3 linked regions of the Homo sapiens genome follow. The protein of the gene in region 3 purifies or fractionates together with the protein of the main gene of each other region. This does not show direct contact. Each region holds a gene or a part of one and is shown on either strand. Other genes may lie near its edges.

Evidence for each region.
Region 1: the proteins of FYTTD1 (region 3) and UBA6 purify together in Homo sapiens (affinity purification with mass spectrometry; 3 studies listed by BioGRID and IntAct, with this or other methods). This does not show direct contact.
Region 2: the proteins of FYTTD1 (region 3) and PALM purify together in Homo sapiens (affinity purification with mass spectrometry; 3 studies listed by BioGRID and IntAct, with this or other methods). This does not show direct contact.

What each region holds. Positions count from the first base shown.
Region 1 is NC_000004.12:67,624,486-67,628,235, forward strand, and holds part of UBA6 (ubiquitin-like modifier-activating enzyme 6), read right to left. Parts: intron 1,993-3,750; coding exon 1,875-1,992; intron 703-1,874; coding exon 509-702; intron 1-508. UniProt on the Homo sapiens protein: Activates ubiquitin by first adenylating its C-terminal glycine residue with ATP, and thereafter linking this residue to the side chain of a cysteine residue in E1, yielding a ubiquitin-E1 thioester and free AMP.
Region 2 is NC_000019.10:706,966-710,715, reverse strand, and holds the start of PALM (paralemmin-1), read right to left. Parts: upstream 1,782-3,750; 5' UTR 1,570-1,781; coding exon 1,565-1,569; intron 1-1,564. UniProt on the Homo sapiens protein: Involved in plasma membrane dynamics and cell process formation. Isoform 1 and isoform 2 are necessary for axonal and dendritic filopodia induction, for dendritic spine maturation and synapse formation in a palmitoylation-dependent manner.
Region 3 is NC_000003.12:197,752,740-197,756,489, reverse strand, and holds part of FYTTD1 (UAP56-interacting factor), read right to left. Parts: intron 821-3,750; exon of another isoform or gene 681-820; coding exon of another isoform or gene 656-680; intron 65-655; coding exon 1-64. UniProt on the Homo sapiens protein: Required for mRNA export from the nucleus to the cytoplasm. Acts as an adapter that uses the DDX39B/UAP56-NFX1 pathway to ensure efficient mRNA export and delivering to the nuclear pore.

The sequences.
Region 1 (3,750 bases), on a different chromosome or scaffold from region 3:
ATTCAACCATACAGTCTCCCTATTTTGAAAGCACATGCTGTAACTCAAAAAATAACAACAGTCTAAAATCACTTAATACAGGGGTAAATAACTACATAGCTTCATAGATAATTACATAGAGTAATGATGTAATATGGTATAATAACTAGGGCCGCACTTAAAGATTCTGAATCATTATGAATAAAGATTAGGGAAGTTCATTTTATTCAAGAAAAACAGAGTACCTGCTTTGTATGAATGACGTAAAGATCAGTGAAAAGATTATTGCCTATAAGAAAAATCATAATCTATCTTGAGCTTATTTTTTATTTTAAAAATGTATATTTATGTAATACTTCACAATACAGATGACTGCATTTTCAGAAAATATTTTGAAATTTTAAATTATGAGATCCAATATTTATCCTTCCCTCTCTAACATCTCTGAGTGACTGGGTTGGTATGACGGGGAAGTCAGGGAAGAGGCAATGAAAAAGGAGCATTTTTATTCAAGGAATAATAAACTTACCAAGCCAGAAACTGTAGCAGTGGTTGTTGCTATAGCAGGTATAATTTTACCAGCTATGCGCTTTGTTTTGAAACGGTCAGCTGGTTCAATGCTGTACATTTTGGCACGAAGATTTGATGCAGCTGTGATGAAATCTATGTGTCCATTATGATCATCATCTTTTTCAAATGAAAGCACTGCCATCTGAAGGTCACCTGATTATACCAACCAGATAAACAAAGTTCCACAGCAAGCAGTAAAGATTTTACTAGGTAAAAAGCAATGTGAATTTACTAACTTTCAAAGATTCCTTTTTATATTTTTTAATGACTGAGAAACATAAGAAAAATTCAGGCAACTAATGTTATTGAAGGCCACAAAAACAGCTTTTCCCATGATTAAAGAGAGCCAATTTTTTTTAATTAAAAAAAAAAAAACGATGGTTTTAATGCCACTAAACTAGAGACGTTTCTGTATTTAAAAAAACTTTTTAATAAATAGCAAAATAAGAAAGTTGTGTACTGCACATCTCCTATCAAGTGGTTTACAATAAAAAAGCCAACATTAGGTATAGTTCAAAAATTTATTCCATAAATCCGACTCTGAAACATTTTCCCTCTGGTAACTAAGAACAGGGTCAGTTGGTCAAATTAAAATAAGTAATTTCTGAAATCTTTGTAGATCAGTGGTTCCCAAGATCCTTCTAATTATTGTTATTCTGGGTTATTTTTCCTGAAATTCTACTGGTCCATGCTTAAAATCTCAAAAGTTTGGAAACCACTGATTTATAAAACTAAAAGACGGTGAGCAGGTCAAAACAGATGAGTGTATGGCTGCTTTTAAGGAATTAAAAATTCAGTTTTCCTGTATTTTTATATTTAAGTCCATCTAGCAAGGAAGTATATATAGGTCATTCTGTATTCCCTGTCAGTAATTATGAACCTAATTACTAAAGACTAAGAACCTAAGAATATTTCTGTTTATAGTTCTTTATCCTAAAGTGATTTAAATGGGTCTGTCCAAAGATTAGTTTCCACAAGGACCCCATTAAACTGAATTTTTAATTCCTTAAAAACAGAGCTTTTCATTCATGGTTTTAGACCTGCTCACCATCTAAAGAACTAAAACAATCAGAAAAACAACAACAATGCAGTTAATGTGATTTGGAGAATTAGACTTCAATCTTTGAGAGTAGGGCAATAGTGGGGAAGATGATGAATTTAGTCACAGTTAAAGATGAACACTGACTTTAATATGATCATGAAATCAATCAATATTGTCATCATTATTATTGTTGTGATTAAATTCCACAAATTCTTAGGTGTAGAGCTTAGTGAAAATAAAAACTCATCCAGTTCAAAACATTTTTATAAAGATTTTCCCTTACTTTTGGTGGCTTCATTAGATAAAATAGCCTTTTCTAGTTGGAAAATTGCATTCCTCTCATCTTCACTGCTAATAGGAACATGGTCTGGTTTCCTTGCAGTTTCATCTGTTTGAACAACCTTTGAATATATGAATATATTTTTATTAATGTTATCATTTCCTGCATCTGTTTGGTTACCATTTAACTGTTTTATCAAATTACAAAGAGAAAATATTTTCTCTATATATTTTGATCAGATTATTAATCATTGGTCCAATGTATTTTATACGTTCCTTTAGAAGGTATTATTATGTTATTCATGTATGTATTTTATTATCTATCTTCTCGCACAGGCATGTAAGCTCTATAACAACAGGGATCTTTATGTATCTTGTTCACTGACAGAACTCCAATATATCTAATTTTTAATACCCACAATGATACAGTGGGCATAAAAAATATTTACTGAGTAGCTCATACAATCTAAGTCCATACTGATCTTTTTAAAAATTCCACACTAGAATAAAATTAGTATTAATCAACACTTTGTGATTCTGACAAATCTACTTTAAACGCATGTTGCTTTGCTCTAACTAGTACAGAGCTGCTTCACATCAAGGAAACTAAAGCAATCCATAAGATATATAATATGGCCATCCTTTAAATATTCACTGACTGCTGTTAAGTTTTTTCCTTAAGAATATGCCTTCTTTCATATAGAAAGTTTGGTAGGATTAAGGGAGTACATACCACAAGTAATTTAACCTTAAGAAATTACTTATTAGATATTCCCTGAGGGCACGGAAATTAATATTCTCAAACCAAGAAATTAGCTTCATTATCATGAAGTAATATTTATTTAAAAATACACTCAAATCATCGTTTTACAAATTAAACATTATTACAAAAAATTAAGAAATATTAAGGAGTCCAGGAAGGAGAAACTTTTGTTTGTCTGAATGGCTAGTTGATATTTTTGGCTGTGACATCTGTAACCAGCAGTACCATACCTGAAACTTCGGTGTGAGCTCCTTTAGGGAGTTGTGAAAAAGCCCACAGTTCATGTTAAAACTGTAGTTAAATTGCTCAGGAGAATTTATTACCCTCAGACTTTAACACAGATAGAAGCAATGCAAGCCAGAAAACATACCGAAGCAAGAGCAATAACGGAAAGTAAAGTTAAAGCATTTTTCCTTGGCTTCTCTCTAGTTTTGCCCTTGGAAACATGGGCTGGGAACCTTCTTTGGGATTTCTGTTTATCCTCACCCTATTTTTATTCTTTATAGGCTATAAGTCATAAACATTGTGTTCTGCAAATCCATCTACCTGGGCAAAATCAACTGCCCTACAAGTCTTTTTTTTTTTTCCTAAAATAAAAACGCAGAACGAAAGACTGCACACGTCACTTCTTTCTTGAATTTTGCAGGGAGGTGGTCATTACTCCACCTTTTCTGGTATAGCTAAATTTTGTGGATGATTTTTAGAGAACATACAAGAAAGGCATATACTGAACATGTAAAAAAGAAAAAAAAGTTTTCAAACTTTTTTATTTACATTGCCTAAATTTCATGTTCCATCTTTACCAATACTCCCTATTGCTTTTTTTTTTTTTTTTCAATGTATTTGCCTGGCAAAATCCCAACCCTAGTTATATCCAATTTTCCATCCATTATACAGTATAATACCACCCAAGCAGCTAAATTCTGGCTGGAGAAAAGATCATTACCCTTTCTCCAGCCACATTTAGTAGGATACATTAAGCAGATTAACATTAAGTGGATCTTCAGTATTGTCTTGCGTTTTACTACATCTTTTAATTAAGTGACTCTTCCACTTCACTGGACAATTATTTCATACCTTCTTTTCTTTGCTCTTACTTCCTTTATCTTCTTATCCC
Region 2 (3,750 bases), on a different chromosome or scaffold from region 3:
AGCAGGAGGCACCGAGGCCCCCCGGCCCCAGGTGCTGTGTGATGGAGGGGGGGTGGGGGGGGGGCAGCAGCTCCTCTCTGGGCCTCAGTATCCCCCGTGGGAAAGGAAGGGGTGGCAGGAAGGAAACAATGGGCCCGACCCGGAGTGTTCGCTGACACCCCTCCTCTGGGAGGGAGATCTCCGTCGTCCTCCTAGGCAGCCCCCTCCCCACAGCCACACCCTGCCCAGGCCTGGCTGTCAGAGGCCCAGAGGCTCCTCCGGGGCCTGGCGAGCAGGGCAGATAAACAAGGCTGGGGGGTGGGGGTGTGGAGCAGGCAAGTCTGGGCCCTGGCTCCCCTGAGCCCCTGGCTGAGCTCCCGGGGCGGGGTGACGGGGAGAGGGGTCAGGCCTTTGTCTGGGTTTTCAAAAGCAGAGGACACTGGGTGTCTCGCTTTCCCAGGGAGGGAGGGAGGCAGCGGCCCCCACCCAGCCGCGGGCGTGGCGGGTCACGGGTGAATCCCCGGGGAAAGTTGGCGGCTTAGAAAACACGCCCAGTGGGAAGGGCAGGGGGCCACAGGCGGCCTCCAGATCCGGTCTTCGGTCCTCGGGCTGGGGTGGGGACCCGGGCCTCAGCAGGGCAGCTGGCTCCCCTGTCCTGAAGTGGGCAGGTGGGTGACCCCAGGAGGAGCCTCCTGACCCCTGCCCGTGCAGTGCCCACCTGTGGGAGTGAGGGGCAGAGGGGCACCCGAGCACCGGGAGGAGGGGACCGGTGTCCGAAATGACCACGCGCCCTCGCTCGGTGCCTCCACTGGCCACCCCCCCCCCACACACACAGGCGCAGCCATGCGGGGGTCCAGGGATCCCAGCCCAGGGCCAGCCCACTCCTGTAGCTACACCAGTGGAGCCCCAGCTCCGAGACACTTCCCCGAGAGGGTATCCCACCCAGGCGCCCCGCTGGAAAACGCCGGTTCCTCTCCCTTCTCACACACCCCAGAGACCCGGGAAGCCGAGGGCAGCCCCTCTCCCTCCAGCGGTAACTCGGGACCTGCGCAGTGGCGGGGGGCTCAGGACACCCCTGGAGGCCCTTGGGAAGGGCGGGGGTGGGGGGCACCGGCCCGCGCGCGCGTCCAGGGCGCCAGGAGCCGTGCGCTCAGACTGGGGCGGGGGAAGGGTGCGTGAGCGCGAGGCCGGACCGGTGCAATCTGGGGAGGGGTCGCTCCATCTCCCCGGGGCCACCCACAGGTGGCCGAGAGCCGAGGCTCGCCCTGGAGACGCGGGCGGGGCGCGGGCGGAGACGCGAGCCTCCCCCTCCCCGCGTCCTGGACTGGCCCGAGCCGCCGCTGCCCGGGTCCCCACGCGCCGGTGGGTGGGCAGCCGGGGTCCGGGAGCGGGGAGGCCTCCCGGCAGGCGCGGCCCAGCCCGAGTCTCTTCCCGGCTGCGCTGCGGCCCCAGCAGCCCCGCGCCGCCTCCTGCTCCTCGCGGGGGCAGCGACGCCCCCAATGGGGCGCGAGAGAGGGGGCCTCCCCCCTCCCCGGCTCCCGGAGCTCCGGGCCCCCAGCCCCGCGGCCCGAGCGCGCCTACTCACTCCATCTCCCCGCCGAGGTCCGGGTGGGTCCGCGGTGCCGGGCGGGGGCGGGCGCGGGTGGCGCGCGGGGGAGGGGAGGGGAGGGGGACGCGGCCTGGCGGGGGCCGGGGCGGGCTAAGGCCTGGCGGCCGGGGCTGCGCGGCGCGGGGGCGGCGGCACCGGCTCGGGCATCGCCCCGCGCAAAGCTGCTGTTTATTGTCCGGGCGGCGGCGGGCGCGGGGGGTGGGCTGGGCGCGCGCGTCTCCGGCGCGCTCCCCTCTCCCTCCCGCCCGCCCCGCTCCCCGCCCCGCTCCCCTCCCACCTCCCCGCGCTGCGAGCGGGCGCTGCGCCTCCTGCCGGCTGCGCCGCCGCCGCCCCCCGCCCCGCGCGCCCCGCCCCGGGGCACCCCTGAGAAGGGCCTAGGTCTGGGCGCGGTGCTGGGACCCGGCTGTCACCAAGTCCCGCCCCTCCCCAGCTCCTGGGCCAGAGCCGGGACCCTCGCGAAGTCAGACAAGCAAAGGCCTTTCTCGAGAGCCCAGACGCCGAGAGGGACACACATTTCAGGGCGAGCGAGGGGATAGGGGGGTCCTGGGGAGGCCGCTGCGAGGAGCTGACAGCTCCCTGCACCCCCGGCCCCGCTCGCAGGGTCCCCAGGCCTCCTTTGCCGGAGTATCTGGTGGAGGGCGCTGTGCCTGCAAAGGCCGGGGGTTGGGGTGGAGACAACCGCAGGTGCTGATCTGTCTGTGCCCTGGCTGGGAGCTGAGCCTGGTCCCCGGGGCTGGAATTTAATCGGCCCCAGGGCCCCCATGGCACACTCACTAAAGGCCCAGCGACCAGACGACCAGAGTGAGTGAGAGGGACGGTGGAGAATCAGGGAGAGCTCAGGCTTTGTCCTCAGAGCACTGGGGAGCCACAGCAGGAGACAGGCAGGACCTGTCTTCCCCAACATGTAGGCCTTGGGCCCAGCTTCCTGGTTTCCCGTGAGAACACTGCAGACCAGCCCCAGCACACCTACTCATGGGGGTCCAGGGTGGGCAGGAAGGAAAGATTCTTCCAAACTTCTTAGTTTTCTTATAAAACGGTTCTCCTCTGCCGATGTTTGCTGAATGGCTGTAGATTTAAAGGAAAGTAGCCCCGGATGAGCTGTGGAGAAAGATACGGCAGGATGTACCCCAGGCTGAAGAAGGCCGTCAACACCTTTTCTTTATTCCTCCCTTTTTACAATGAATGTGTATTCATTTTAGCATTTAAGACAATAAGATAAATTAGCAAAGGTTAACAAAGCTAAGATCCTAAAGAATATCAGGGGTCCCGGGTCTGTCTGATTCCCAGCTCACCCATCTCCAAGCTGTGTGACCCTGGGTCTGTTTCTCAACCTCTCGGAGCCTTATTCCCCCCCACCCCCCTGCCCCCACCCTTAAGGCTGTGGGAGGGTTAACTGAGTGAGCACACACAAAGGGCTTGGCACAGGGCCCAGCACACACTAGCTCAGGGTTTGGCAAACTTTTTCTGTAAAGGGCCAGAGAGTAAATATTTTCAGCATTGCAGGCCACAGTCTCTGCGGCAATGACTCTGCTCTGCCATCGCAGAGTGAAAGTAGCCAGAGACAATATGTAAAACCATGGGCATGGCTCTGTGCCCATAAAACTTTATTTACAAAAACAGGCAGTGGGCCAGAGCTTATCCCAGGGCCGTAGTGTACTGACCCCTGCACTAGGCACCCAATAAAACTTTATTTACAAAAACAGGCAGAGGGCCAGAGCTGATCCGAGGGCCGTAGTGTACTGACCCCTGCACTAGGCACCCAATAAAACTGACCTGTGAGTCGTTTCTTCACTTCCCCTTGGCCTCTGTGTTCTTTTAGTCCAAAGTGATTTATTGAACACCTACTGTGTGCCTGGCACCGTTAGTCACCTGTGATGCAGAAGTTCCATTTTTGCGGCCAGGCGCCGTGGCTCACGCCTATAATCCCAGCACTTTGGGAGGCTGAGGCTGGTGGATCACGAGGTCAAAAGTTTGAGACCAGGCCGGGCGCGGTGGCTCACGCCTGTAATCCCAGCACTTTGGGAGGCTGAGGCTGGTGGATCATGAGGTCAAAAGTTAGAGACCAGCCTGGCCAACATGGCAAAACCACTTCTTTTTTTGGCTGGGGTGGACGGAGTTTCGCTCTTGTTGCCCAGGCTGGAGTGCAATGGCGCGATCTCGGC
Region 3 (3,750 bases):
CTTCTATTTAGTCTTGGAAAATTCTGCTTCTTCCCTTCCTTTCGATTCAACTTGATGATATCATCTATGATAGAGGAAATGTCAATTATTTTCATTTTAACTTAACTCAATTACTCAGTTTCGTTTTCTAGCTGATAGATGTCCTACGTTCCTAACTTCTTTTCTACTTTGAAAGCACTTCCATAAGAGGATAATAACAAGAATCAGCCATTTTACAATAGCCCAAAGCAGATCTACCAATTAATGAAGAGTGCTATTGGCCATAGTATTTCTTTACCTGATGAATCAAGCAGAAGCCTGTTTACAAGTTATTCCTACTTACTTCCCATAATCACAGAAGCCTCCAATTTCCTACTTACTTCCCATAATCACAGAAGCCTCTAATTTCCTACCTACTTCCCGTAATCACAGAAGCCTCCAATTTCCTACCTACTTCCCATAATCACAGAAGCCTCCATTTTCCTACCTACTTCCCATAATCACAGAAGCCTCCATTTTCCTACCTACTTCCCATAATCACAGAAGCCTCCATTTTCCTACCTACTTCCCATAATCACAGAAGCCTCCATTTTCCTACCTACTTCCCATAATCGCAGAAGCGTCCATTTTCCTACTTACTTCCCAAAAACACAGAAGCCTCCATTTTCCTACTTACTTCCCATAATCACAGAAGGCTCCATTTTTTAAAGATGACCCCCTTCCGGCCAGGCATGGTGACTCACACCTATAATCCCAGCACTTTGGGAGGCTGAGGTGGGCGGATCATTTGAGGTCAGGAGTTCGGGACTGGCCTGACCAACATGGTGAAATCCCGTCTCTACTAAAAATACAAATAAATAAATAAATAAATAAATAAATAAATAAATAAATAAATAAATTAGCCGGGTATGGCGGTGCATGCCTGTAATCCCAGCTACTCGGGAGGCTGAGGCAGAAGAATTGGTTGAACTCGGGAGGCAGAGGTTGCAGTGAGCCAAGATCGCACCACTGCACTCCAGCCTGGGTGACAGAGCGAGACTCCATAAAAAAAAAGAAAAAGTAAAAAAAGATGACCACCTTCCAATATATAGGTAATCAAAAATTAAACCATTCAACTAAAATACTAAATGTTGAAATTCAGCAAATATTTACTGAGCATATACTACATGCAACAAATATATGTGTCAGGTTGTGCTGTAACTGAAACAAAAGTAAAATACGGTCCCTTTTCTAAATAAGTTTAAAAGTACTGATGGAAACAGACATGCAAATAGCAAATACAAAATTAAACAAGTGCCATAATAAAGGTATAGTACAAAAAATACTAATGACTCACCTCTAGCAAAGTACTTCAAGTTACCTTATTTTTCTTTCTACACTGATCTAAGCCTCATTACTTCCAAACATACTTCCAAACTGCCCCAAGGTAATTCACAAACAAAAATACACAACAGAACAAGGTGAAGACCAGAAAACTAAATGTACTCCAGATTCCCATTTATATCTGTTAAAAGAGGTTACTAGAAGCCAAAAATACTCATTTAAGAAATATCCAGCTGGGCACATGCCTGTAACCTCAGCACTTTTAGAGGTGAGATGGGAGAATGCTTCAGCCCAAGAGTTCGAGACCAACCTGGGCAACACAGCAAAACCTCATCTCCACAAATAATTTTTAAAAATTAGCCAGGCATGGTGGTGCGTGCCCGTGGTCCCAGCTACCCAGGAGGCTGAGGTGGGAGAATTCCTTGAGCTCAAGTGGTCAAGGCTGCAGTGAGCCACAATCACGCCACTGCACTCCAGCCTAGGCAACAGAGCAAGACTGTCTTTCAAAAAAAAAAAAAAAGAAAGAAAAAAAAAAACCCACAAACATTTCCTCCATAGTCCTAATTCCAGTATTATTTCATAATTGAGAAAGCAAATAAAACAAAGAAATTGCATACAGTCAACAAATTCTTAATAAAACTCTATGAAACTAATTAAACTCAATTTTTTTGTCACTATAATTAGTCTTTCCAGAAGTCAGAGAAGGAAATATAACTTGAAGGTCCTTTGTAATATATTACTGTTCTACCTAACCAATCTCTAATCTTTAAGACTCTTAATTACACTCAAATATTCACACAAAATATCTCAAATCTCCCCAAAATATTTAGTTGTCTTCTTGAAATTAATGTCCAACTACGAAAAAGTTCATCAAAGTTAAGGGCACTCAAAAACTTTTGTAAAAAATTAAAAGGTCAACATCAGATATATAAACATGTATCTCAATAAGCATAAAGGGAATACCAAGGAAGACACTATTTATGAGACACCACTTTCCTTTCACAAAGTGCTACTTACTCTTCATCAAAAGTCTAAAATCTCAAGCCTTGAGAGTAAACCAAAAAAATGAATTTTGTCTGGGGAGCATTAAAAAAAAGAGGCAAAGTACAATTCTGACTAACAAAGTTCATCTTAAAATATAGCATATAGGCCGGGTGCGGTAGCTCACGCCTGTAATCCCAGCACTTTGGGAGGCCGAAGTGGGCGGATCATGAGGTCAGGAGATCGAGACCATCCTGGCTAATATGGTGAAACCCTGTGTCTACTAAAAAATACAAAAAATTAGCCGGGTGTGGCGGTGGGCGCCTGTAGTCCCAGCTACTTGGGAGGCTGAGGCAGGAGAATGTTGTGAACCTGGGAAGCCGAGATCGTGCCACTGCACTCCAGCCTGGGCGACAGAGCAAGACTCCGTCTCAAAATAAATAAATAAATAAAATAAAATACAGCATATAAAGTCTAAATATAACTAAAAATCAGAAGTAGCAGAGCATATTAAATATAAAATTACATTTCACATTTCAACATTTTACTACCTATATCTTCAAATAAGTCAAATGAGCTACCATGGCCGAGAGGATTCTTTCAATCTAAAAAAAGAAAACGGCTTTCTCCTGCCCAATGAATAGATACACAGGTATCAGAATTAAAAAAAAAAAAAAATTCCTTACAATGAGCTATTTTAAGTTTCTTCCATAGCACTAGAGGAATATACATGGTAATAGTAATAGCAGCAGTAGCAGCAGTGGTGGTGGTAAGTACTACAGCACAGGCACCAGCAATGTTAGTACCAACAGTTCTGACATGTATTCACTTAATTCACAACAATCCTATGAAATAAGTATCACCATAACACCGATTTTCAAATTAAGGAATTGAACCATGAGGCCAGCTATTGGTAAACTTGGTACTCTATGTGAAATTCATATACACCTGGCAAAGCCATGATTTAAAACAAAAAAACCTCTGCAAACCTGGTAAGATTAAACATTCACAAAGCATAGTAACTGCCTAGGATAGATGATGTCTAGGATAGAAATGGGATGATCTCTTCATCCCATTTCTGTAAAATTCTCACCAAAAGAAAGGCAATAGAGGGACTGCTGTATGTTCCTGGGGGAAAGAAAGATATCAAGCTGTTTCAGCTCTCCACAGCACTTCATTGCTACCTCCAAGAGAACTACCCCTCAGTTTTCTTCACTTGAACGTACTAATCATCAAACAAAACACATACAAAAAAGAAAACAGAAAACCTAGAAACGTAAGAAATCTAGGTGTAAAACAACTTGAGGCTCTAGAATCAGACTGAAATCCTGGCACCACCACTTAACTACCTTGTATGACTTCGAGCAAGTTACTTAATTTCTCTATGCCTCTGATTTCTGTAAAATGGAAATAACAACAAATAACAAAAGCATATATACAGACATACACACATATATATAGTGTATG